Homo sapiens: one gene and its partners. The protein of the gene in region 3 purifies or fractionates together with the protein of the main gene of each other region. This does not show direct contact. Each region holds a gene or a part of one and is shown on either strand. Other genes may lie near its edges. The genes, in order: LRIG3, DSG2, SLC35B3, TMEM59, RAB6B, RBM42 and WRNIP1.

Region 1 (3,500 bases), on a different chromosome or scaffold from region 3:
AAGCCTCAGAGTTGGGAAGAGAAGAAAGGAGAGTCCCCATTTCATGGATGCAGAGACTAATATTTAGGGAATTTAAGTTAAGTAGAAGGGCTGAGATTACCCTTCCATTCTCCCAAGATCCAATTTCATTCTCATTCCACCGCACCATCCTGATGCCAAAACAAAGATGAAGCAATTTTAGAAAACTCTCTTTCCCATCTGTGAAATTAAAATAATCAGCAAACTATAGACCCATTTTCCTCTACCTCAGCAGAAATAAAAGCTTTATAAAGAGATCATAAATCTATTCAAAACCATTATTTGGATAAATGGGAGGGGGAAAAAAGAAGAATAAATAAAAGGCAAGGGCAATACTTATACTCACCACACACAAAGCCATCTGGGCTAACAGCAAAAATGCTTCTTCCTTTTAGCAGCTGAGGATGGGCACAACTGGCATTTACAAAGCTCTGAAAGTTGTTTTCCGCCACCCACTGTGGGAGCCATTTTAGCTGGCAATCGCACAAAAGGCTTGATGTATTTAAATGCCTGAGGAGAGTAATTACATTCAATTTGTTCTGTATGAAATGCAGATTTCTACAAGTAAACTAAACCCAAGTAAATATTAACAAAGCAATGAATTTGGAAACTGAATACACACATCCCATGGAATAAGTATCCCACAGTCCATTTTAAAATACAAGAAATGTATCTAGCATGATTTTCTGTTGTTCTTACTGTCCTACTGAGACAGAAGTGTTGATTTATCAAAAGTTCCTTACAACTGAAAAAATTACTACTATATTGGGTGACTGTACTATATTTGGTCCCACAAAGTTGCGAATTTAAAATAGAAAGAAAAACTCATTTCAACAAAAAGAACAAATAAACTCCTTTTCTGTTGCCTAGTATAAAAATTAAGTAATGTTAAGAATGTGCCAGGCACTTTTTATAGATACATAATCCAGGATGCCACACCATATGACAGTTTTCCCCTCTATACTTTCAGACTCCTAGAAGGAAAAGAAAAGCTTACAATTGTTGCAGTTTCTTCATTTGTGAAAATGCATTGCCTTGTAAAGACATGATTGCGTTGTCACTCAGGTCTCTGAAAAATCACCAAATCAAATGCATCAGAGCAAACTACCATCATTTCGTGCTTTTGGACAAAGTTTGGGCCCCCACTGCCCACCCCATTTGCCAAACAAATACTCCCTCTATGTGTCAAATACATGACTGGGGCAGCCCCAGAAGAATCCACTGCAAAGCTTGTGCTGAAGACCCAGGGCATTTGTATCACAGATAGGTTTTGTTTTAGTGAAAAAGATTCACTTTCTGTCATCACTTAAAGATTATTTGACTCATTAGGGCCCATGCTGTTCTATTATTTCATTCTATTACTCTTTATTCAAATTAGCAACTATTGGAAACTTCTAAATATACAAATAAAATATACAAATAAAAAATAAAAATAATTATGCTTTTATAAAACATTTACACAGTATTTTTGAAGATATGCACTCAGTTAAGTGATTTACAAGTGTTACTGCATTTATTCCTACAACAACCCAAAATATGATGGTATTACTACTTAGCTCAGCACGAAAGGGGAAGGTAAGGGTTGAAACAATTATTTTCAATTCCAAAACCTGTGCTTTTAACCATTAACCTAATTCTGTCACCCACAGCTCACTAACATAAACGCAGTAAGATGTTCAGACAAGATATACTTGTTAAAACCAATACTTCAGGCAGGAAATTCATAAAATGAGCACATATTCTGGATTAATTCTCTTTATACAGAGACTTATAAGCACTCTGCATTAAAGTATTCACCACAATGATTACCACTCTGTTTTTCTTTACAGGGGTCACAGTATACAAAGGGAATATTGAGTGAGACAAGTGGGAAGAGAAGACAAAGAAAGAAGGGACCAGACATGGCTAGACGAAGAGGCTGGGGCAATCAAGGAAGATTTAAGAAAACTGAAGCAGAGATTAATACTCCACTGATCCACTAATTCCACGTTCCCAGAAACGGAATGGGCCAAATGACAAACCCTTTTGGCTAGTTTTCTTTTCAAAATAATCGGTTTCAATAAATACTGCAATGTTGGTCTGCCCTTCCAAAACTCAGCTTTGCAGAATCATTCTACTATAATTTGAACTGCCGCACTCACTGTCTGGGTGGCTCACGATCCAAGTCTCCCTCAGAGGAACTGGTGCAGTCAGAAGGTGACAACACAGTGGTTTACAGATAACAGCTAAATCTTCACTCTCAATACACAGCACACATAGGAGAACCCAATATGTATTTTAAATTGTAACTTCTTTTGTCCTGGTTAATACATATTAAAACTTCTGGATACAAGCATTCCTTAACAGTCAGAGTCGATATTATACATTACTTTGTACTTTTACTGTACAAGCGTAAAACATACATCCATGGTTATAAGCAGCTGGTTGGTTCCCTTAGTTAAAACATGCAAGTTTTGATTCCTATCAATGTTAGCTAGCTTTCCTCTCTTAGTGGCTGAAAATTCCTGAGCCCCTAAATGACATTTCAGAAATGTGTGCCAGGAGTTACTAGGAGCTACTGGGAGTAGCGGCAGAGATTGTACAGGCAAGAGCTAGTGTGATGCAGGGACACTGTGCAAGTCGGGGCAGCTCTGGGTTGCGTCCTGCTTCTGACAGCTACTAACTGGTGGGTCAAGACGAAACAAAAGAAAACAACAAAAAAGAGAACAATGGTAAGGGGGGGTTGTATGTTTCATAATTAAACAACAATAAGAGACCAACAATTCTCAAAGTAGTGCTAAAACTCTCCTATGTCACTCTTAAGGATTGTGGAACATTGTCTTTGTTCTTTAAAAGCCAAGTCATCTCCTTTAACTGTCCAGTGGAATCAATAAACTCTTAGAACCTCCGCTTAACAATAAAGATAATAATAGCTATTGAATTGTATTCTGACTAAGAATTAAATGAGAATATATGTGAATATGTGGTACAATGCCTGATATATAGTGGATGAACTACACCTAGTAGTTTGTTTTTTTTTTAATTAAATAATCACTGTTTGAGAAAAACAATTAAAAACCCATTAAGGAGATATAGCTTTTGTTCTTAAATACAAAGGAAAGCATACACCTGTATACTTCTATATAGGTAGGTAGGTAAGTAGGTAGACAGAGAAAGAAATAGAAAGATAGGGAGATGTTTAAATATATTTTATGGAACCGGAAGGATGCCAACAAAATTACATTCCAGTTTGTTTTATCTTTCATGACACATAAGTAAAAACCATCTTAGAGATTCTCTTTTAGGGTAACTAAATTCTAGCTACTCACAGATGCTCCAATGCATCCAAACCAGTGAAGGCTTTTTTAGTAATAGAACGGATCCGATTTCCTTGGAGTATCCTGGGGAAAAAAATTACATTGGAGCACTTAATTTAAAAAGCCATTTTGGGGTGGAACTCTCATAAACAGAACTGCTTTTTAAATTATGTGTGAGCAATTCCA
Region 2 (3,500 bases), on a different chromosome or scaffold from region 3:
ATACCTCACAAAGTATTCATTAACAGCTTGATTAATATCTTTTATGATTTTTCATAACTATACAGTTGCACATATATACACAGATGCATAAAGGTCTTTTTGCTATAAAAATGGACTTACACTATATATCTTATTTTGCCCCGATTTTCATTCAGCACCTCGTCATGGACATTCTTTCATGTACCATAAATGGTTTTAACATTCACCTATTGGTGGATATTTACATTGTCAAAAACTGCTGCACTGAATACCCCTGGATAAGCTCCTCTGCACTTGTTTGAATGGGAATGGCTGGGTCTAATACAACATGTGTCTTCAATCTAGTAAAGCCCAGTCAACCTGTTTGCCATGGAATTAACCCTCCTGAGTCAGAAGGCAGAAATAATCCCTTTGTTTCCTCACCTGTAAGTGAAGTCCACTTCCAACGTTAAAGCAGATCTGTAAAATAAAATTATTTGATATTTAGCCAATTTACTGCTCAATTCAGTGTGAAAACATTGTTCATGAATAACCTACTGCATTGAATATTATAGACATAAAAAAAGTTTAACCACTACTACTATTCTTTGTCAAGAGGAAACTAATTTTTCCCATTGCCTTCCCTAATGGGAAGTGCCCGAGGAGAAATCTATATTCTCCTGGATCCATACTGACTCCTCCAGAAAACAGTATCTTAAAAAACAAACAAAATAATCTGCCTTGTGAAATCTTAGACATTCTCTCATCCTTTACTCCGCATCCTATGGTTTTTATCTTGTGTTCTCCAGGACCTGCTTACTTTTCCTCGAGGCCACCAGTATGTAATGTACCCCACACCCAGCTAACTCCCACCATCCCTATGGATGTGTGTGCATTATACACACACAAAAAAACACACACCACACACACACGGACAGCCCATGTTCTGACTTCTCGGTTCCTCAGCATCCTCAGTCCCACCAACTCTTTTCTTTGGTTCTTCATAGGCACTGTCACACTTGGGACTTCATCATGACCTAGTACTGTTCTAAATACAGTTATGCTTACTCTTAAATTTGCCCAAAAAACTCCCATCTTGCTTTCTGAATATTTTGCACTGTAAAATAATAATTTTAAAAATTGATGCATTAAAGATGTGCATAGTTTTGGAATACATGTGATAATTTAATACATTCATATAATTTGTAAAGATAATTAGTATACTTGGGATGTCAATTACCTTAAATACTTGTCTTTTCATTATGCTAGAAACATTTAAATAATTCTCTTCTAGCTGCTTTGATATGTATAATAGGTTATTGTAAACTATAGTCACCCTGCTGATCTATCGAACTAGTGTACTTATTTCTAACTAGTGGTCTTATTTCTTCTATCAAACCATATATTTGTACCCATTAATCAATTCTTTTCTTCCCCCACCTCCCCACTACCTTTCCCAGTTTCTGGATTCTATCATTCTATTCTCGATGCCCATGAGATCAAAACTTTTAGCTCCCACATATAAGTGAGAAGATGTTGTATTTGTATTTCTGTGCCTGGCTTATTCAGTTAACATAATGACCTCCACTTCCAGCCATGTTGTTTTGCTGCAAATGGCAGGATTTCCTTATAGTTCATTAATCTCCCTGCTGGCTTCCTTCTTCTCTTGGCTCAATCTGAACCAGCACTTTCTAATATGGTAGCTACTTGTGGCTATTTGGATTTTAACCGCAATTATTTGAAATGAATAATCCAGTTGCTCCACAGCCACATGTGCTAAGGGCTACCCATTTGGACAGGGCAGACAGAAAACATTTCCACCGCTGCACACAGTTCTACCGGAGCAGCTAGCAGACTGCTGCCTGCCACTCTGAAGATGTTGTCAGTGACCACCAGGGAGGCTTCATTTTCATGACTGCTATTCCTGCCTCACTTTTCCTCTCAACTCTAGAAACCTATTATTCTCTTTAGTTCTGACCATGTACTGGCAATATCGCTAGAGGAGGCCACAGTGGCTGAATAGATCCCTTACACATTCATGCTCTCAAATAGCTGCTCTTTCCATGGGGTGGCGGTTCCTTTCTAGTGTGACCATATGTCTGCATTTGCTCAGAAGAGTCTAGGTTGACACCTGCTGTGAGGCATTCCATCTGTTAACAACCCTTTCATCCTCAAAAGTGTGCTCACACTATAAATTATATCGTCACTTTGTCATTGCCTTACCCTTATTGCATTTCTAAAATAGGCATTCCAAACTTTAGGAGATGACTCTAGTCACACCTCTGTACCTATTCACTCTTATGAGATGACCCCATGTATTATTTGACTGAGACTATCTTCAGTCATCCTCTCCTTCCCTTCTTTCCCCACAGAAGAGGTGTCCTGACTCCTTTCCAAGGCAAACCATCGTTTGTGTGCTTTATTTGCAACTCTATTTGTTCTCCCACATTTATCTTCAAGAACCTTAATCCTTCCACTAACCTTTTATCTTCCTTCTCCATTGGCTAATCAATACATTTATTTCCTTCTGATTGGCAAACCAAATATATTTAGGTTTTCCTTATCTTAAAAAAAAAACCAGATCCCTCTCTTGTTTCTGTTAACAATCTATTGCTCTATATCCCTCTCTTACTTATAATTCCAAATTGAAATTATTGTCTATATGTATTGCTCCCACTACTCCACCTTCCATTTATGCATTAATTCACTGGACTCTGTCTTTGGTGTAGCTTTTCTCAGTTGTTTGCCTTTTCCCATCTGCATGGTCACATGGATCCACAAAGCCCTAGTTGGTACATCATGGGAAACAAGGCATTCCCTAAAATTTCAAAGTCTCTTTCACATCCTTTGCATTCATTTGAAAGCTTCCTGTAGGGTCCATTCCACAAGTGAATCTTTCAGCCTCTTTCTTTCCTTTCCATTGTCAGTTCATGTTCTTGGCTCTCCATTCCAAAGAGAAACTCAAGGAGAGCAGATGTTCAGCTTCTAGTGTGGGCTTCTCTGGGGCAGATGAACAATCATGGCTAATTCTCTATTTTATGATCAGATCTATGATCTCTTCTTCATTCTGTCTACTATTAACTTGCCCAGCTAGCAATGGCCAGAGATGTCTCTAACCAAAGTGGTGCTCCCCAAATTTATGTATTTTCAAAGGTGGCATGGTATGAAAAGCAAGGGAAAGCAATGCTGAGATAGATCACTTCTCTCTGCATGTTCCTTGGGTGGGAATTTTTGAAGAGAAAGATCAGTGCCTGGATCAGAGAGGTCCCAGTGTCCACATCATCAGGGAACAGCCTTAAAATTTAGTATATTTAGGCCGGGTACAGTGGCTCACACCTGTAATCCCAGCACTTAGGGAGGCCGAGGCAGGCGGATCATGAGGTCTGATGATCGAGACCATCCTGGCTAACACGGTAAAACCCTGTCTCTACTAAAAATACAAAAAAATATTAGCTGCCCGTGGTGGTGGGTGCCTGTAGTCCCAGCTACTCGAGAGGCTGAGGCAGGAGAATGGCGTGAACCCGGGAGGCAGAGTTTGCAGT
Region 3 (3,500 bases):
ATTCCAAAGCATGGGGAAAGCATTATGCTATACTGCTTTCTTATACTATTACCTATAATTGTATTGAGTCATTACAATATGCTTGGCAGTTTACTAAATTACAAACATCTCAGAAGAAGGTGACTTTGGGAAAGCGTGACCTTCTGGAGAAATGTTTTGATGCCAATAAAAGCAGGAAAGAAAGATATTTTCTAGAAGTTTTATTTATTCTGTATGTATGTGTAAATATGTAAGCATTATTTGTAAATTTTCCCCACTCTTTTTCTATAAGATTTTCAGTTTTGCTCATAAAGTTTGCCAGTACCACCATCCATTTCAAAAATCGTATCCAAGCAGAAGGTGAGTGATTGCAAGCTGAAGTTTGAGGGTATCAAGAGGAAGGATCAGTTTATTTGGTTCATCTGAATATCAGGTCAGAGTATATGCCAGGTACCAAGGACACAGAGACAAATAAGATTTGAATCTTGCCTTTCAAGTTCTCTTTTCTAATAACTGGGGGGATTAGTGATGGTGTCACAAAGGAGGGGATATTAAAGCTGAACTTCCAAACCTGACCTTGAGAAAGAAGACCTCAGGCTGAAAGGACATCATGAACAGAAGGCAGCGGTGTTTTAAAGTCCCTGGTGTATTTCAGGAATGAAACATGGGTGGTTTAGGGCTTTATTGAGAGTGGAGGGAGAGCAAACTTAGAAACCTATGTAAGGCCGGGTTTATTTGAATGGTGCACTATATCCATGCTCACACATAGAAAAGAGTAAATTGTTAAGGTTTTCGTCTCTTCTACATTCAAGCACAGGTTTGACCAAATATTTAGGAGAGATAATTTAAAGCATGGTTTTAAAAGAAAGTCACATCTCAAAGATACCCTGCAAGATTACATAAAAAGTCTTACAAATGACAGTGATTGAAACATAATGTGGGAAGCAAGAACAAAGGAAAGTGAAGAATAAACAAGAGGAACACAGTAAACTTCATGAAACAACTTTTCTATTTAGAAATAAGGCAGGTGCCCTATAAAATGTTGTGGTGGCTGCATATTTTTAGTTACAAGTGGTATTCAGATCCTTGACCCCTCCTTTAATTCCTAAGGATGACCTGGTTAACCTCTGTAAATTAGCAAACTAGAAGTGATCATGAAGAGGCGACTCTAATTTTGGCCATTTTAAGCCATCTTGTAACAGTTTAAAAAAACATTACCAAAGGAAAACTCACTGTCAAAATTATTCTTATTTCTCTTCGTGCCGCAGAGTTTAAATTTTTGTTCCCACTGGAATTAAAAACAGATGAGTCGTTTCTAAGAAAATAACTTTTTCTTTTACATAGGTTTATTCTATACTTTGTCATAATTCTTCAGTCTTTCCTCAGTCTTTACATGGAGTTCATTTTTTCAGTTTATATAAATCCAAAGAGAAATTGATGGCTTCATAATTTTTTTTAGACTGACAAAAAATGACATGTTTTCTCCAGCCTTTTACATCCCAGAAGAATGTAAATTAAAATGATTTGTTCCAGAGGAAGAAAACATTTTTTAACCTAAGAGATGCTACTGCTGAAGCATATTGTGCTTTCTGTAGTCTCTGATAAATCTAGCTTTTTAAGGACCTTAGGTTTGGGGTTTCTTTGTTTTGTTTTTTTCATTTATTTTCTAGAGACAGGGTCTGGCTCTGTCGCCCAGGCTGGAGTGCAGGGGTGCAATCATAGATTACTGCAGCCTCAAACTCCTGGACTCAAGTGATCATCCTGCCTCAGCCTCCCAAGTAGCTAGGACTACAGGCATGCACCACCATGTCCAGCTAATTTTTTTATTTTATTTTATTTTATTTTATTTGGTAGAGAGAGGGTCTTGCTATGTTGCCCAGGCTGGTCTTGAACTCCTGGTCTCAAGCAACCTCTCTGCTTCAGCCTCCCAAAATGTTGGGATTACAGGCATGAGCCACCACACCTGGCCTTCATTTTTTTAGTTTATTTTTTAAATGTCATTAGCAAATATATCTTAGAATTGTCTTAGTATTTAAAGGAGAATTACTTATTTTTTACTCCTCTACAAGTGAAGATTGACTTTAATGTTGAGAATGTTATGCATCAACTATATATAGACACAAAGACATGTTTAGTTCTTTGATGAAATAACTAGCTTTTGTTGCTGTGGAAATAAGTATGGTTTATATTCAGTTTAATGATGTACTAATCTTTATCAGCTGTAGACAAATTGTTTAAAGATTGTAGGCATATTGTTTTTGGTGATTTGGAACCTAGAATACAGGAATTAATATACTAATATCCAGAGAGAAGCAGACATTTGTATAACTTTAAAGTATGATTTGGAATATTATTTGGAGGATTAAACTTTATCATGTAAATGTTTTAATTGCTTATTTCCTTCTCTAGGACTTGACACAGCAAGCAAAAGACATACAGAACATAACAGTCCAGGAAACCAACAAAAATAACTCTGAAAGCATTGAATGCAGCAAAATAACAATGGATCTCAAGTTCAACAATTCCAGGAAATATATTTCTATCACTGTGCCATCCAAAACCCAAACAATGTCACCACACATCAAGTCAGTTGACGACGTTGTGGTACTTGGCATGAATCTCAGCAAGTTTAACAAACTTACTCAGTTTTTCATATGTGTTGCTGGAGTTTTTGTATTTTACCTAATTTATGGGTATTTACAGGTAAAAAAGTTATATGTTTGTAATATGTTAATTATTTATAATAATTGCGGTCAGTATGGGCATTTACTAGTTTTGCCCAAGATAGTCACTTAGGGGATACTGGCTGATTCATAAATTTGAATTTTTTAGTATAGAGTAGAAAAGAGCTTCTTAACAGATCAAAATTCAAGAGTTAAATAATTTAAGTGGGGAGGAGGCATATGTAGAGACTATCTTGAAAAATTTTCATTATGAAAATTAAGTTTTAAATATTTAACAAAATGTGTGCTTCCAAGAGAAAGCAATGATTCACGTATTGATTGGTATCTTGGAATATTATTGAATGATAGTGCAGTTTACTTGATTCTTGGAGCTCAATAATAAAAGATCATTTTTGCAAAAATGTATCAGGATATTTTATGGTTTTCTAAAGGTATCTCTTTAATCCTATAATATTTGAATTATTTCTTTTTTAAACACCTCTTATATTCTCATTCTTATTGGTTTTGTCTTCTAACTTTGCCAGAATCTTATTGTTCTGTGATTTTTTGCTGGCACAAAACATTTCTGATACTGCAACAATTTGTCTTATATTTACATTATATTTGGAAAAGTTATATACCTTTGGCTAGGAGCAGATTTCTGACCTTCAAAGACATGGGCTGGATGGGTGAGGATCCAGGCTAGTGAAAACAGGATGTTGGAATGGGTTCTAATTTTATGAATGGTCATTTAATTAGTGGATATTTTCCCATAACTTGAGAAAACCTTTGTAATTCAAGGAAAGGAAAATGATGTATTTTCTTAAAACACAGATATTTCCAGTATTCTTTAGTACT
Region 4 (4,060 bases), on a different chromosome or scaffold from region 3:
GCTATTCTGGATTCTAGGCGTTCGAATGACGAATTTATCCATTGTTAGGGGACTCCGACTACCTTGACGTGCTTGCAGCGTGTTCTGGTCAAGAAAGAGGGCAGATTCTAAAACCCCACTAAAGACTGCCATGATATTTTTTCCCCAAAGTAACACAATTGAGTTCTCTGGAAGAATTCATGAATTATGGGGCCTCGAGTGGAATTGACAGGAAGTAAGATTTTCTCTTTAAAAGAAAGATCTTCCGAAGAATTGAAACTGTAATCAATCATCAGTCTACGTCCTGAGTTAGGAGGTTCCTAGCTTCCAGAAGTGCACGCTCTAGCGAGGATTCCAACATTGGGGGAATTGGCCCAATATTGGAATCCCCGCTAGAGCGTGCACCTAAGCCCTCTTCCAAATAAGATTGGGCTGTGAAAGGGTTAGGATTACATTAGGCTCAGTGACGCCCTCTTAACAACCACCTCACCACAGCCATAATCCCAAGGGTTGCCCTGGTAATCAGCAACCGACAACCACCTCCAGAACTCAGCAGAGGGTCTCACAATACGCAGCATCCCCTAGAACAAACTGCTCGGTGGTCAGAGGACCCTACCCACGGCTGTAATCTCTGGATCCCCGAACAAGGAGAAACCCCATCCTCCTCGTTCCCAGCACTCAGGAGCCCGGGTAGGGGCACCCAACAACGGTCTGACGTGAGACCCACCAGGAAAAGCAGCCCTGGTAGCTGCTGTTGGCGCCCTCCAGACTGCAACCTCGTAGGCTCCCAAGCCCAGTCGTCTGTGTTGAAACTAAACAGACGCTTCCTCCCAGGGCGGTAGTTCCTCTGAAGAAACTCCGCCGGCCCTCGCGCCTCTGGGCCACAGCGAACCACATTCCCCAGAATGCACTGCGAAGAAATGCGGGCGGAAGGCGCGCTGAGGGCGGCTGTAGTTTTCCGAGACCAACTTTCCCGACAGCACCGTGCGCCTCCCGCCTACGGAGAACTACATGCCCCAGCCTGCCCCGCGAAGGGAAGAAGTCAGGAGGCCCCGCTTCGCGCTAACGCTTGCGATGGTTGAATTCCCCTCCTCACGCCAGCCTAGGAGAAGAAGTTCGTAGTCCCAGAGGTGAGGCAGGAGGCGGCAGTTTCTGGCGGGTGAGGGCGGAGCTGAAGTGACAGCGGAGGCGGAAGCAACGGTCGGTGGGGCGGAGAAGGGGGCTGGCCCCAGGAGGAGGAGGAAACCCTTCCGAGAAAACAGCAACAAGCTGAGCTGCTGTGACAGAGGGGAACAAGATGGCGGCGCCGAAGGGGAGCCTCTGGGTGAGGACCCAACTGGGGCTCCCGCCGCTGCTGCTGCTGACCATGGCCTTGGCCGGAGGTTCGGGGACCGCTTCGGCTGAAGCATTTGACTCGGTCTTGGGTGATACGGCGTCTTGCCACCGGGCCTGTCAGTTGACCTACCCCTTGCACACCTACCCTAAGGTAGGGCCCGTCCGGAGCGGGCTGCGACCCTTCCCTTGCAGCCCATTTCTCGGCTCCCCACACGTATGTCGGCTCTGGCAACCTGGCTGTTAAATCGGCCCTTCAATCGCTGTCTCCCATCTGTGTAGCTCCTGTTTTCCTCCCTAATCCTGCCTGCACCCCATTTCTGCTGTCATTACCGGAAGTTTGTCCTGCACTACCCTGTGATAGGCTGGGGGACACAAAGATGAGAAAGACGCGATCCCTTTCCTCTGGGAGCTTGCCGGGCTGCAGGGGAGTCGAGCACTCGGAGGAGGATAGGGGAGGATATGGATGATTAATGCGGGGTCCTCACCTAAGGGAGCGTAAGGGGGGATTGTAGAAAGGGAGGCGCAGATACGCGAGTCCACAAATGATTGATTGATAACCCTTGTTTACTAAGCGCCTCTCGGGGCCAGGAGCGCAGTCTTCGGGGAGTCAGACAAGTAGACGATTCCACTGTGGTATAAAAAGCGTCACGAAGGCAGCTCAGGGAGTAGCGAGACGCTCAGGAATGCTGTCTGCCTATGTTGAGTTACTGTGTCCAAGACGCTGCCAAGAGGGACTGGGTTAGAGAAGAGGCAATTAGGTGTCTGCCTACCAGAAACTGACCACTCAGTGCAGAAAACGGGGAATTCGTGGAGTGGGTGAAGAAATGAGACTGTGGACAGGAGGGGGTTCGCAGCTTACAGAGAGGAATGGCCCTCCTCTCTATGCTTCCCCCCTTTCTTTTAATTACATACCTAACCCTCTTCACGTTGGTTTTTCAGCCTAAGAACTCTGTTTACTCAACATTCTAAATTGCTTGATGATTCCCACCACACCTTTCCCATGTATGATTTGAGTATATGCCCTCCCCCACGTTGTTTTATGAGAGCTTTTGTTGATGTTGCTGGTGGTTTCCTCTTCGTTTTTCCTTCATCTCCTCTATGCTATTTGCTTAACCATTGTGGCTGGACCTCCTTGCTCTCTAAAACTGGAGTGGCTACGGAGACAGTTCCAGTGAAGCTTAGGATGTTCCATATTGGCGAGTATTTTCAGGTCTTTGAAATGAAAAGTTCTAAGTGCCGGCACTTCTCAGATTTTGTTACGGCTGGATTTTAAACTGCATGGAGATTATCAATTTTCAAAAAAAAGTGTGGGAGAAGGGACTGTACTAAATTTTTCCAGAGATTTATGTAACAATCGAGAAAGAAGTGAGAAGTTTTAACTTCAGACTTAAATCAATGAATACTGCTTCTAACCACGTTATTTTTCTCCACCTCTTGTAAACTTCTCATCATTAAGAGGATTGTATGAAGAAGCTCATTAATATTGATTTGGCCTGGAATTGGGTTGAGACTTACTTTCTATTGTTCTAGGGTTTGTTTCCTTTTTTGGGATTTTCTCGGCAATTTTGTGGTATAAACCAGAATGTTGGGAAAATAATCAAATAATTTGAAAGGATACCTTCCTGGAAGTTGTAGGTACTTTAATAATGTCCACTATTTTCTAACAATTGGTGTTATATCTATAAACTATTTTTACTTATTTATTAAAGCTTTTCTCACAAAGAACTCCAAATCATCTGGCTCCCTATAGGTCCTGGACTTGAAATTTATATAGACTCCACTGTTAGCCAGAGTGATGGGAGATTTATCATACCATTATCCCTAATTCTCACAACAACCCTGTAAAGTAGGGTTTTAAAATTAAGGAAATTGAGGCTCTGAAAGGTTAAGTGACTTGCCTAAGGTCACATACCCAAGAAATAGTGGAGCAGGAATTCAGCTTAAAACTGGCTACACTATGCTGCCTCCTATTAATAAACTTGCATTAAACATATTCGGCCGGGTGCGATGGCTCACGCTTGTAATCCCAGCACTTTGGGAGGCCGAGGTGGGTGGATCACCTCAGCTCAGGAGATTGAGACCAGCCTGGACAACATGGCAAGACCCCGTCTCTGGAAAAAAGAAAAACAAAAAAACTAGCCAGGCATGGAGACGAGCACCTGTAGTCCCAGCTACTCGGTGGGAGGCTTGCTTGAGCCTGGGAGGCGCAGGTCGCAGTGAGCCGAAATGTCGCCAGTGCACGCCAGTCTGAGAATGAGACCGTGTCTCAAAAAAATAAAAATAAAAAAATGCCGGGCGCGGTGGCTCACTCCTGTAATCCCAGCACTTTGGGAAGCTGAGGCGGGTGGATCACCTCAGGTCAGGAGTTCAAGACCAGCCTGGCCAACATGGTGAAACCCTGTCTCTACTAAAAATACAAAAAAATTTAGCCAGTCGTGGTGGCGGGCGCCTGTAATCCCAGCTACTCAGGAGGCTGAGGCAGGAGAAGCGCCTGAACCCGGGAGACAGAGGTTGCAGTGAGCCCGCGCCACCGCACTCCAGCCTGGGCGACAAGAGGGAAACTCTGCATCAAAAAAAAAAAAAAGAAACATATTTAATTATGTCACTGATTTCTATTGGCTCTCCTCTGTGCTTTGTGCTCCAGGAAAAAGCACTGTGTATTGTAAGAAATTAGATGAATTTTCAAACTCACATAGCGTTTGAAAAACGAGATAGAAATCTCGTTTTAGGCTGGGCGCGGTGGCTC
Region 5 (3,500 bases), on a different chromosome or scaffold from region 3:
CTTCTTGTCTCTTCTTGTCGTTCTGCCAGCCCACCTTCCCCACTGCCACCAGCACTGTCCACACAGGGCAAACCATCACTGCATCCAGAAGGCCAGTGCTGTATACACAGCTTGCCAAGGGTTCCCAGCAATGCTGGGGTGGCAGGGCAGAAGCGACCGCCAGGCCAACCACACTCCTCACCCAGAGTCCCCTCCCCATACCTCGGGCACCCTGCAGCCACACCTTTGCTGCTCCCCTGCTTGGCATGCCCTCCCTCCTCACCACCTCTCCAAGTCCTTCTCATCCCCAACGGCAGGAGTTCTTAACCCTTCCGTGAGCCAAGGACCCCTCTGGCAATCTGGTTAATCCTATGGACTCCTTTGAAGTATGTGAAATCAATTACATAGGATGATAAAGGGGACTACTGAGTACTGAAATAAAACTTCATCGACATTTGTGCTTCCTTATGAAACACATTGAACAGCGAGAACTAGCAAGAGATCTAATAAGTAGTGTGATGCTGAAACACTGATAGATGTGAAGTTCAAGATACCTGCAACACTATGAGGTGATGGGAAGGCATCTGTGATTTCTATTGGTGGTAAAGCCATAGGCACTGCTAATGTGACTGAGTGTCATTGCCTACATTCATCATTGAAGGACAAATCAGACGTCCTTCAGTGCTACGGACGGGTCAGTGGTTAGTGAAGATAAAGGTGCAATGTTTTCCAGCCCTGTCTGCTGACCTGCTAAATTCCACCCATGGACTACTCAGGGGCCCTCATGCTGCAAGGCTCAGCCCTAACTCCACTGCCTCGCCCTCCTGTGAGTTCCAACCACATCATGGTAGGCTCTTTCCCCCAGGCCTGAGTTGCCCTCCACAGCCCTGAGCACTTGCTAAGCGCAAGGCATGAACCCCAAATGCTGATCAGATTGAATTTTCCTGCACCTGTCATCCAAAGTGGGGTGAGGGGCTAGGGAACCACTGCTTCCCTCAGCCTCCTGGAAGCTGGTGGCTGGACACTCTTAGGGCCTGCTACGTGGGCCGTGACTGGCAACTACTACGGTGGCTGGTGACTTATGTTCTCCAGATGCCATGCCCGGAGTGGTCCCTCCCTCTTTTGGGCTTTACCAGCTCCGGAAATTAGCTCTCCCCTCCCTGGGCGCATCTATGGGTGTTCTGGTTGGCTGCCCCAATCCCATCACCAGCCCTTCAGGGCAAGGCAGCTCTGAGCCTGCAGCTGACCACAGGGCTACACCGTGCCGGGCCCCGTGCCGGGCCCCGTGCCAGGTGTGTCCTCACCTGCTTCACGTTGTAGCCAGTCTTCGCACTGGTCTCAATGAACATGACGCTCAGTTCTTTGGCGCGCTGCTCCCCCTCCTCGATGGTTATCTGCCTAGAGATGAGGGGAAGGGGGGAAATCAGCTCAGCAGAGAAGCAGACCCTGGCAGATATGAGGAGGGACCCACCCAGCAGGGCAGAGGGAGCCCACTGGGCCCTTGGTCAGTCCTGAAGACAGGCTCTGATCCCAAGGGTCCCTCCCGGGCACCAACCACAGTCTCGCTAGCACAAAGCAGGCACCAGGGAACAGTAGGACACTATCCGCTTCCCCCACTCCTTCCTTTGTGTCTTCTCAGCTTCAAAGCAGGCCCTGGGGTAGGGCTGCCCCATACCTGCCTTTCCCAGTAGTCACTACTGCAGAGCCTGTGCTTATGAAGAGATTCAAGCCAGGCAGTGCCACTCTGGGTGGTATTATCAGTCGCATTTTCCCTGTGAGAACACTAATGCTAAAAGTGTCTCCCCCAGGGCCACAAAGCTACTTAGCAGAGAGGGCTCCATGATGGGGCAGGCAGAAGTGGGTGAGGGTATGAAGGGCCTGGGTACCCTTTGTACTGGGATTTGAGCCCAGTTTTCCTTACTTTAAGGACAGAACTCTAGTAAAGCAGGCTCTAATTCAGATGATTCCTCAGGTGGTCAAGGGACGCTGCAGGAAGCCCACACTGCTTGCTGGAGTCCATGGCCTGTCACTTTATCTGCCCAAGTCAGGGTCATGTAAAATGAGTGGACAATGTACACACATGGCACCTCAGTTCTCCCTGTGCATGGAGGGCAGCATGGAGGAGCCTCTTCAGAGAAAGCTTCATGCCAGACGCAGCCACAAACCAGGCTAAGCAGGCTACGGCCATAGGTTTGTGGTCTGAATGCTCTGCATGCTCACACCTAGGGCCCAGGGCATTCACAGCCCCACGCACATTGGTGCAGACACTTCACAGGCACAGACAGTTCACAGTGCACACGCTGGGGCCTAGAGGACTGCTGTGTCTGGGGCAGGGCTGTGGCCATGGCAGGGCCTTAGACCATGCACTGCTGGGTCAAGCCAGGTGCACAGTGCTCTGTGTAGACAGCAAACGGAGAAGTGCCCCGCCCCTGCCTGGTGGTGGAAGACAGGGCTTCACAGATGAGATACCCATGGATGAGAGTCTACCAGGTGTCCTCAAAGCTCCTAGTGTCTCAAGGGACCTTTTCCGGATGCATGGTCAGAAGCACAGACACACCACCCATGCATCCCAGAGCTCCCTGTCCAGGAGCAGTTACAGAGGAGTGGAGGGTGGCACCCTGCACCTGTGTGCCCTTGCACCTACCTCTTATCAGCCAGGTCCGTCTTGTTGCCCACCAGCATGATGATAACATCACTGCCCCTCTCTGTCCTGACGTCGTCGATCCACTTAGAGGTCTGTTGGAAGGAGTTGAGATCTGGAGGCAGAAAGTGAGGATAAACTGAAAGCCAGGGCCAGCCACCAGTGGGAGATGGGAAGGGGAGGTGTGAGCCAGGAGCAGGAGGGAGGGTGAGCATGTGCCCTCAGATACCCAGGGAGGGGTGTGAGCTCAGTCAACACAGATCAGCTGGGTAGGGCCTTTCAGAGGGAACCGGGCCCTGCCCTGCGGCCCTGGGGAGCCACTTGCACTGTTCAGCCACCCTTTGTGGGAGAGGAATCACCCCATCTGGAAGATCACAGTGTCATGATTTGCCACATGGAATAGTGGCTTTAGGGGCCCACCTGAGAGACCTGACTCTGGGGATTCAGAGTGGAGAGTGAGAACTGGGTCACACGTGTGTGTGCATACACACACACACACACACATGCGCGCGCGACTTGGCAAGTTTGGGAACAGTGAGGGTGGGCAGAGGAGGACACAGCAGCCTCTAGGGAAGGAAGGGCCCTACTGAGTGGTGTCCCCACCATGGGAGCTCAGGAGAGTTTGGGGAAGGCCAGAGGGGTTTCTGAAGAGAACCCTCAGGCTCTGCAGATGAGAGGAGGGGAAAGGTGGCCCCGGGACTAGTCAGGGGAGCCAGGTGCACTCAAAAATCCAGGAGAGACAAGGCCACTTCTGGGCAGCCTGACCCCCCTCAGCTGCCATGATAGGCCTTGCAGGGCAGAGCAGCTATAAGGCAATACCCACCACTCGGCAGCCTGCACACCCAAGGGGAGGGGAGGTAGCTGTCCTCAGAAGCCTCAG
Region 6 (3,075 bases), on a different chromosome or scaffold from region 3:
CCTCACCCACAGGTCAGCGCCCCCATCCTGCCCTGACCACTCTGGGCTCTTATCGTCAGGGCACCGGGCCTATTTTCTGCACTGGACCTTGAGCTCTAACGGTGCAGGGCCCAGGACTTTTAGTCACCATTGTGTCCTCAAGCACTGTTCAGACCCTTGGTGAGAGTCTGCTGGATGGAAGAGGGCCTAGAAGCCTGTGAGCTCCAGAAGGGAAGGGCCTAGATCTCCTACCTTGGTGCTGAGAACACAGGAAGTAGCCAGGACACGGGGATGGGCCTCAGCTTGGCTTCACCCTTGCCATTGGCCCCCCTTTCTCCTCTGGAATAAGCAGCACTCAGCATGTGTGGAAGAGGTTTGAAGAGGGAATGGGTGCGCAGGAAGGGCTCAGAAGCCCCCGCCTGGGTGTTTGCCTGGGTAAACTCTCAAGGCTCCCCGCCATTTCCAGCTGTGGGGAAGCCAAGCCCTGCTCCCCACAGCGTGCTTCCATGCCCAGCCAGGGGTGGAAATGAACGTAAATTTATTGAAACTGGTTTTGGGGCAGGGGATGGGTGGACAGCTGGGGGTTTTCCAAAGAGAACTGAGGGAGGAGCCAGCGCCCGGCCAGGTGGGAGCGGGTGCCTGGCCACAGACCCTATCTCAGGCCCAGCTTCTTCTTTTCCTTCTGCTTCTTGCGGACCACGTCCAGATTCCGGTCCTTCCACATGCTCTTGCGAAGCTTGATGGGGCGCGAGCCCACATACTTCCCTGTGGAGACAGAGGGTTCAAGGCAGGCTCGGGTCAGGCTTAGGCCAGCGCCTGCCGCGCCTGCAGTTCCCAGGGGAGGCCGCACCCACCATTCATCTCACGCATGGCGCGCACGTAGTCGCTGGGGTCCTTGAAGCTGACGAAGCCGTAGCCCTTGGTCTTGCCTGTGCGCTTGTCACGGATCACCTTGGCCTTAAGGAAGGATGGGAAGCGGCTGAAGGCGCGTGCCAAGATGTCATCGTTCACCTCATTGCCCAGATCCCCACAGAAGATCCGGAAGTCATCTGGGGATGGGGAAGAGATGACATCAGAGGATGCAGAGGCCTTGCCCAGTGTCTACCTTGTCTGAACGATCCCACCTTTTCGGAGGTATCTAGTCTCTGCCTAGGGACCTCTTAGTAATAATGGTCAACACCTACTGACCCTGCGCCAGGAGCTCTGCTGGCACCTGGAGGGGTGTTTCCATTTCTGGCACTCCCAACCATGCTTTTACACTGAGGCACAGAGAGGTGAAGTCACTGCCCACAGTGACACAAGCAGGAAGCGGCAGAGCTAAGACAAGAGCTCAGGCATCTGGCTCCAGTCCTTACTTTTAACCTTGAACTGCACTGCCCTCCCCACCCCAGGGCCACCTCACTCATTCCTGTAGTAACACCCTTAACTCTGCCCTAGCCCTGGCCTTTCCTCTGAGCCTTGGTGTCCCTTGGTCCCCTGGACCCCTGTCACCCACTGGCTGCCCGTCATGGCACCTCAGGAACATGGGCTTCATCTTTCCTCAGCCCTGCTTCCTTGGCAAGGCCTGCCCTAACTCCCCCTTGAGACCTGGACATGCTGCCTGCTCCTCCGCCATGGCTGCACCCAGCTGACATTCTCATGCTGCCTCTGAGTTGGGCCTGTGCTTCCACTGAACATGCTCTGTCCCAATGAATCCCTGTCCCCACAAGGGAGGGGATGAGGAATATGAGGCTTAAAAGGCTAAGTGAGCCAAGCACAGTGGCTCACGCCTGTGATCCCAGCACTTTGGGAGGCTGAGGCAGGTGGATGACTTGAGCTCAAGAGTTCAAGACCAGCCTGACCAACATGGTGAAACTCCATCTCTACTAAACAATACAAAAATTAGCTGGGTGTGGTGGTGGGTGCCTGTAATCCCAGCTACTCGGAAGGCTGAGGTGGGAGAATTGCTTCAACCCAGGAGGCGGAGGCTGCAGTGAGCCAAGATTACACCACTGCACTCCAACCTGGGTGACAGTGCGAGACTCTGTCTCAAAAAAAAGAAAAAAAAAAAAAACAAAAGAAGAAACAAAACAAAACCAGGCTAAGTGACTTGCCCAAGGTCACAGAGCTAGGGTCTTCTCTGGGCCAGGTAGACGGTCCCAGGAGAGGGGGTGGAAGTCAAACACTGAAGCAGGAGGGGTCCATCTCCTTCCTCAGCCATTGCACGGCTGCCCCATGGCGTCTGTGATATGGGACACTCTAAGCACAAGTTAGGCAATGCCAGGAGCAAACAACCGGACAAACTCAGAAGGTGGGACATCATACATGACAACTGCCCTGGACACTTCAAAAAATATGTACAAAACAAAGAGGCAGGAAAGAGACCGTTCTTATTAAGATATAATCGAGGCTGGGCGTGGTGGCTTATGCCTGTAATCCCAGCACTTTGGAAGGCTGAGGCAGGCGGATCACAAGGTCAGGAGTTCGAGACCAGCCTGGCCAGCATGGTGAAACCCCGTCTCTACTAAAAATACCAAAAATTAGCCAAGCATGGTCGTGCGCGCCTGTAGTCCCAGCTATTCGGGAGGCTGAGGCAGGAGAATTACTTGACCCTGGCAGGTGGAGGTTGCAGTGAGCTGCCGAGATTGCGCCACTGCACTCCAGCCTGGGCGATGGAGCAAGACTCCGTTTCAAAAAAAAAAAAGAAAAAAAAAAAGATATAATTGAAGGACATAAAACTGCATGCATGCTGGTTCAGGGCAAAAACATTAATAGTTCTAACAGAGTTTTGGGACACCTAGGGAAATACGAATATAAACTGAAAAGAAGATACCGAATTAGTTAATGTTCTTAGACTTGATAATAGTATTATGATATGCAAAAAGTATCTCTTTTCTTTTTTTTTTTTTTTTTGAGATGGAGTCTTGTTCTGTTGCCAGGCTAGAGTGCAGTGGCCTGATCTCGGCTCACTGCAACCTCTGCCTCCTGGGTTCAGGCGATACTCCTGTCTCAGCCAACCGAGTAGCTGGGATTATAGGTGCCTCCCACCAAGCCTGGCTAATTTTTTTGTATTTTTAGAGACACGGGATTTCACCATGTTGGCCAGGCTGGTCTTGA
Region 7 (3,500 bases), 5.7 Mb from region 3:
GACACAAATACAGCCACATGTACCTTACCTACCATAGACTGAGCTCAAATCTCCAGGGGCAGACCCTGGGCAAGGCATGTTTCTAAAATGTATCCCAGGGAAGTGTGATGTGCAGATCTGGTTAAAAGGCTCTCCTGCTGCTCTTACACAAAGAAGTGCCAAGAGAGAAAAGTCAGAACAGAAAAACCGAGCAGTGGGTCCATCCTCTGTAAACTTGGCACCTCCACCCCTTGTAGCACTTGAAGTCACTGAGAAGACAGAGACATGCCTTAAACACTGGCTCCATCACATTGAAGCTGGTTGGTCTTGGGCATGTTACTTAACCTTTTTGTGCCTCAGTTTCCTCATCTAGTAAATAGGAGGTAATGAGATCTACTTTGCAGAGCTGTATTGAGGACTGAATGAGATTAAGACATGTGGAATGCTTAGAGCAGTGCCTGCCATGTCATGAGACTCGACAAATACTGCTTTGGTATCAACAGCGAGGAGAATCACCCTCATCAGACTGTGCAACAGCATACTCTCCAGAACTGCACATATCCAAGGCAGAGCCCCAGATGCTGCCGCTTCCATAACATCAGAGTGAAAGCAAAGCAAAACAAAACTGACTTTCTCCACAAAGAGAGAAGGTACATTTCAGATGACGACGTCTTTCTGTTTAATCCCATGGAGGCACATGTCTTTCCAAATTACATTATACTTGGTAGGGGTCTGTAGTGGGTTGAATAGTGACCCCAAAAGATGTAAGTCCTAATCCCTGGAACCTGTGACTGTGACTTTATTTGGAAATAGGGTCTTTGTAGATGTAACTAAGGGTCTCAAGATGAAATCATCCTGGATTTAGAGTGTACCTTAAATCCAATGACAAATGTCCTTACAAAACACAGAAAAAGAGAAGACGTAAGGACACAGAGAAGAAGGCCACCATGTGAAGATGGATGTAGAGACTGGAGTGACATAGTCATAAGCCAAGGAATGCCAAGGGCCATCAGATGCTGGATGAGAGCATCGCCTTGTTGATACCTTGATTCTGGTCTTCTGGCTTTCAGAACTGTGAGGATAAAGCTCTGTGTTCTGAGCCACCCAGTTTGTGGCAATTGTTACAGCAGCCACAGGAAGTGCATCCAAGGACCATGAGATCTGTGGTTCTGGCTGCTGGTGCTTTTATGGCATTATTTTAATGCACCCTTGTATTAAAACAGCTATGTTAATGTACTGTATTAATGTACTTAAAAAATTTTTAAATAAAAAGATTGACATCTACTCTATACCAACCATTTATTCTGGCCAATCCCTTGTATTCTGGAGTTCCACTACCTTTCTTTCTATTCAATGGCACAAAAGGTTATTTAAGACACTTTAAACTTTTATAAAAAGAAGAATCCATAGCCACCTTGTTTGGGGGCCAGCTTGTCAGGGGCTCTCCTCTCCAGATGATTAGAGAAAAGCCCCACACCCAGTTACGCCACAGCCCTTACCCAGGGACAGACGCCACTTTCTGTCTTCCAACCACCTCTCGGAACTCAGCCTAGCTAGGCAGAGGGCAGTTATGGCTTCTCATTTCACTCTCTTGATCTCCAAAGACTTGTATACTCTATCTGGTTCACAAATAATTGATTCTTTAGGAGTGTTTTTGACTATGTATATATTCTATGACCTAGGAATCTATATTCCTTCAAAGCAGCAAGTAGTGCAGGATGACGAAATGCTAGCTTACTTTTTCATTTTCAGCAGCACAAGCTCATTCTTCGTATCATGAATCATGGACATTTTTTTCCTGGCCTCCAAAATTAACCCAGAGCAGACAGAATCTTCACTGTTTGTATCATGTGATCCAAATATTTTTGGGAGAGCAAAATACCTGAACACTACTGCTTAGCCATACAAACCAAAGCAACTATGGCGTAGACAATGAGCTTTCTATTTCACTCAGTTAAATTCTGCTTATCCTTCAAAACTCAACTCCGCATCCCCTCATCTAGGAGGTGAAATACTGGATTTCACATATTCTGAATGCTGCTTCTCTACGCCCACTGCACTTGGCGTATAAGCGTGGCACTGGAAGTGGACCTGCTCCCCTAGCCTTCATCATACTGCGCTCCCTCTGAAGGCACAGGAACAAGCTTTTCAACCCTCAGCCAATGCCTAGCATATGCAGGAGCTTCAATTTTGACTGAATAATAACTACAGGAGGGAATTTTTTTTTAAAAAAAGAACACTTATTTCACTTTAATGGGAATTTATCACTTACATGAGTATACTGTGTGACAACTCACAATTCCTCAAGTGCAATCAAGAACGGCTAAGCGGCAGCTTGATTAGTTTCCAAATCCAGTGCCCTGCTCACCTCCTCTCACGTGCAGTTCAACAGCCTGGGACTTCTCTGTAAATGTTCTAGTTGCTATCTAGGGCACCAAAACATGACACAAGAATACAAATGCACACCAATAGCTTCCTGGAGAGAGAAAGTAAGTATATGGGGTTGGAAGTCTTTTCTTTCAACTAGATTAGTGTCACCAAATCTGATTTATATGCACAAGGATGTATATAGAGCTGTCAACAGGGATTGGAAAGCAAAATTTTACCTAAAACAACTAAAAGACATCCCAATCCACTCTTAATTATCCCTGACAGTTGGGGTGGCAGGTACTTGTATTCGGAAATCACTTGTAAGAGTTCTTTCTGTGGCCTATGATATCTCCTAACTTAACTTCTTGTTAGAATTGCTAACAAGTTGACCAATTAATGGTTTTAAGCTTAACATTCTTTCATTTTACTCTGCTTGCTGCTGATGAAAAGGGCAATAGTATTAAAGAAAAAGGCTCTTGATACCTGGGTAATTATCCCTTATGCTGGATAATGCAAAACATATTAAACTACTTTTCTCATATCGAAAGCTAGGATTTATTCATTTCCAAACCATTCACAAAGCACATAATGTGTGCCAGGCACTGTGCTGGGGATATGAACAGGGACAAGCTCCTGTCCTCACAGTCTTCCCAGGAAAGCGGGGGACACAAGATAGCAAATATAATTGGGATCAAGTCTAAGCAAGCGGTAGTGGAAATAGTAAATCATTTACTGGATATGGGAAGTTTTCTCTGAAAAGCAATTTTAGCAGATAAACAATCTCTAGCTCATTGTTATATCAGTTTCAATAACTAAATCTTAATTATTTCACTTGATCTTCTCAAACTTTAATGTGCCTGCAAATCACCTGAGGATTTTTAATAATAAAATATAGAAATTCTTCTCACAAGGATGAGCTCCTTGGCTGCCGCCTTTCTCATTTCCTTTAAATTCCTGCACGGCAGTGACTGGGGAGAGGTGAAAAAACCTGAGGGTATCTGAGTAACAACTGATTATTATTGACTTCATGTCATCAATATTAATTATTGATTTCATGTTCTATTTCATGAACTGATGACATGAAATCAATAAAAATCACCCCAGACAAGTACACATGCAGAATATTAAGTTGCAGATACATTACGATAACC

The links.
Region 1: the proteins of SLC35B3 (region 3) and LRIG3 purify together in Homo sapiens (affinity purification with mass spectrometry; one large-scale study listed by BioGRID and IntAct). This does not show direct contact.
Region 2: the proteins of SLC35B3 (region 3) and DSG2 purify together in Homo sapiens (affinity purification with mass spectrometry; one large-scale study listed by BioGRID and IntAct). This does not show direct contact.
Region 4: the proteins of SLC35B3 (region 3) and TMEM59 purify together in Homo sapiens (affinity purification with mass spectrometry; one large-scale study listed by BioGRID and IntAct). This does not show direct contact.
Region 5: the proteins of SLC35B3 (region 3) and RAB6B purify together in Homo sapiens (affinity purification with mass spectrometry; one large-scale study listed by BioGRID and IntAct). This does not show direct contact.
Region 6: the proteins of SLC35B3 (region 3) and RBM42 purify together in Homo sapiens (affinity purification with mass spectrometry; one large-scale study listed by BioGRID and IntAct). This does not show direct contact.
Region 7: the proteins of SLC35B3 (region 3) and WRNIP1 purify together in Homo sapiens (affinity purification with mass spectrometry; one large-scale study listed by BioGRID and IntAct). This does not show direct contact.

What each region holds. Positions count from the first base shown.
Region 1 is NC_000012.12:58,882,505-58,886,004, forward strand, and holds part of LRIG3 (leucine-rich repeats and immunoglobulin-like domains protein 3 isoform 2 precursor), read right to left. Parts: intron 3,399-3,500; coding exon 3,327-3,398; intron 1,088-3,326; coding exon 1,016-1,087; intron 529-1,015; coding exon 365-528; intron 1-364. UniProt on the Homo sapiens protein: May play a role in craniofacial and inner ear morphogenesis during embryonic development. May act within the otic vesicle epithelium to control formation of the lateral semicircular canal in the inner ear, possibly by restricting the expression of NTN1.
Region 2 is NC_000018.10:31,515,177-31,518,676, reverse strand, and holds part of DSG2 (desmoglein-2 preproprotein), read right to left. Parts: intron 439-3,500; coding exon 403-438; intron 1-402.
Region 3 is NC_000006.12:8,429,046-8,432,545, reverse strand, and holds part of SLC35B3 (adenosine 3'-phospho 5'-phosphosulfate transporter 2), read left to right. Parts: intron 1-271; exon of another isoform or gene 272-339; intron 340-2,388; coding exon of another isoform or gene 2,389-2,481; coding exon 2,482-2,682; intron 2,683-3,500. UniProt on the Homo sapiens protein: Probably functions as a 3'-phosphoadenylyl sulfate:adenosine 3',5'-bisphosphate antiporter at the Golgi membranes.
Region 4 is NC_000001.11:54,050,405-54,054,464, reverse strand, and holds the start of TMEM59 (transmembrane protein 59 isoform 2 precursor), read left to right. Parts: upstream 1-1,260; 5' UTR 1,261-1,276; coding exon 1,277-1,465; intron 1,466-4,060. Other genes in the region: TCEANC2 (transcription elongation factor A N-terminal and central domain-containing protein 2), read right to left, coding at 1-42.
Region 5 is NC_000003.12:133,836,883-133,840,382, forward strand, and holds part of RAB6B (ras-related protein Rab-6B), read right to left. Parts: intron 2,736-3,500; coding exon 2,624-2,735; intron 1,378-2,623; coding exon 1,284-1,377; intron 1-1,283. UniProt on the Homo sapiens protein: The small GTPases Rab are key regulators of intracellular membrane trafficking, from the formation of transport vesicles to their fusion with membranes. Rabs cycle between active GTP-bound and inactive GDP-bound states.
Region 6 is NC_000019.10:35,635,111-35,638,185, reverse strand, and holds the end of RBM42 (RNA-binding protein 42), read right to left. Parts: intron 1,029-3,075; coding exon 834-1,028; intron 745-833; coding exon 632-744; 3' UTR 501-631; downstream 1-500. UniProt on the Homo sapiens protein: Binds (via the RRM domain) to the 3'-untranslated region (UTR) of CDKN1A mRNA.
Region 7 is NC_000006.12:2,771,893-2,775,392, reverse strand, and holds part of WRNIP1 (ATPase WRNIP1), read right to left. Parts: intron 2,456-3,500; coding exon of another isoform or gene 2,395-2,455; exon of another isoform or gene 2,342-2,394; intron 1-2,341. UniProt on the Homo sapiens protein: Functions as a modulator of initiation or reinitiation events during DNA polymerase delta-mediated DNA synthesis. In the presence of ATP, stimulation of DNA polymerase delta-mediated DNA synthesis is decreased.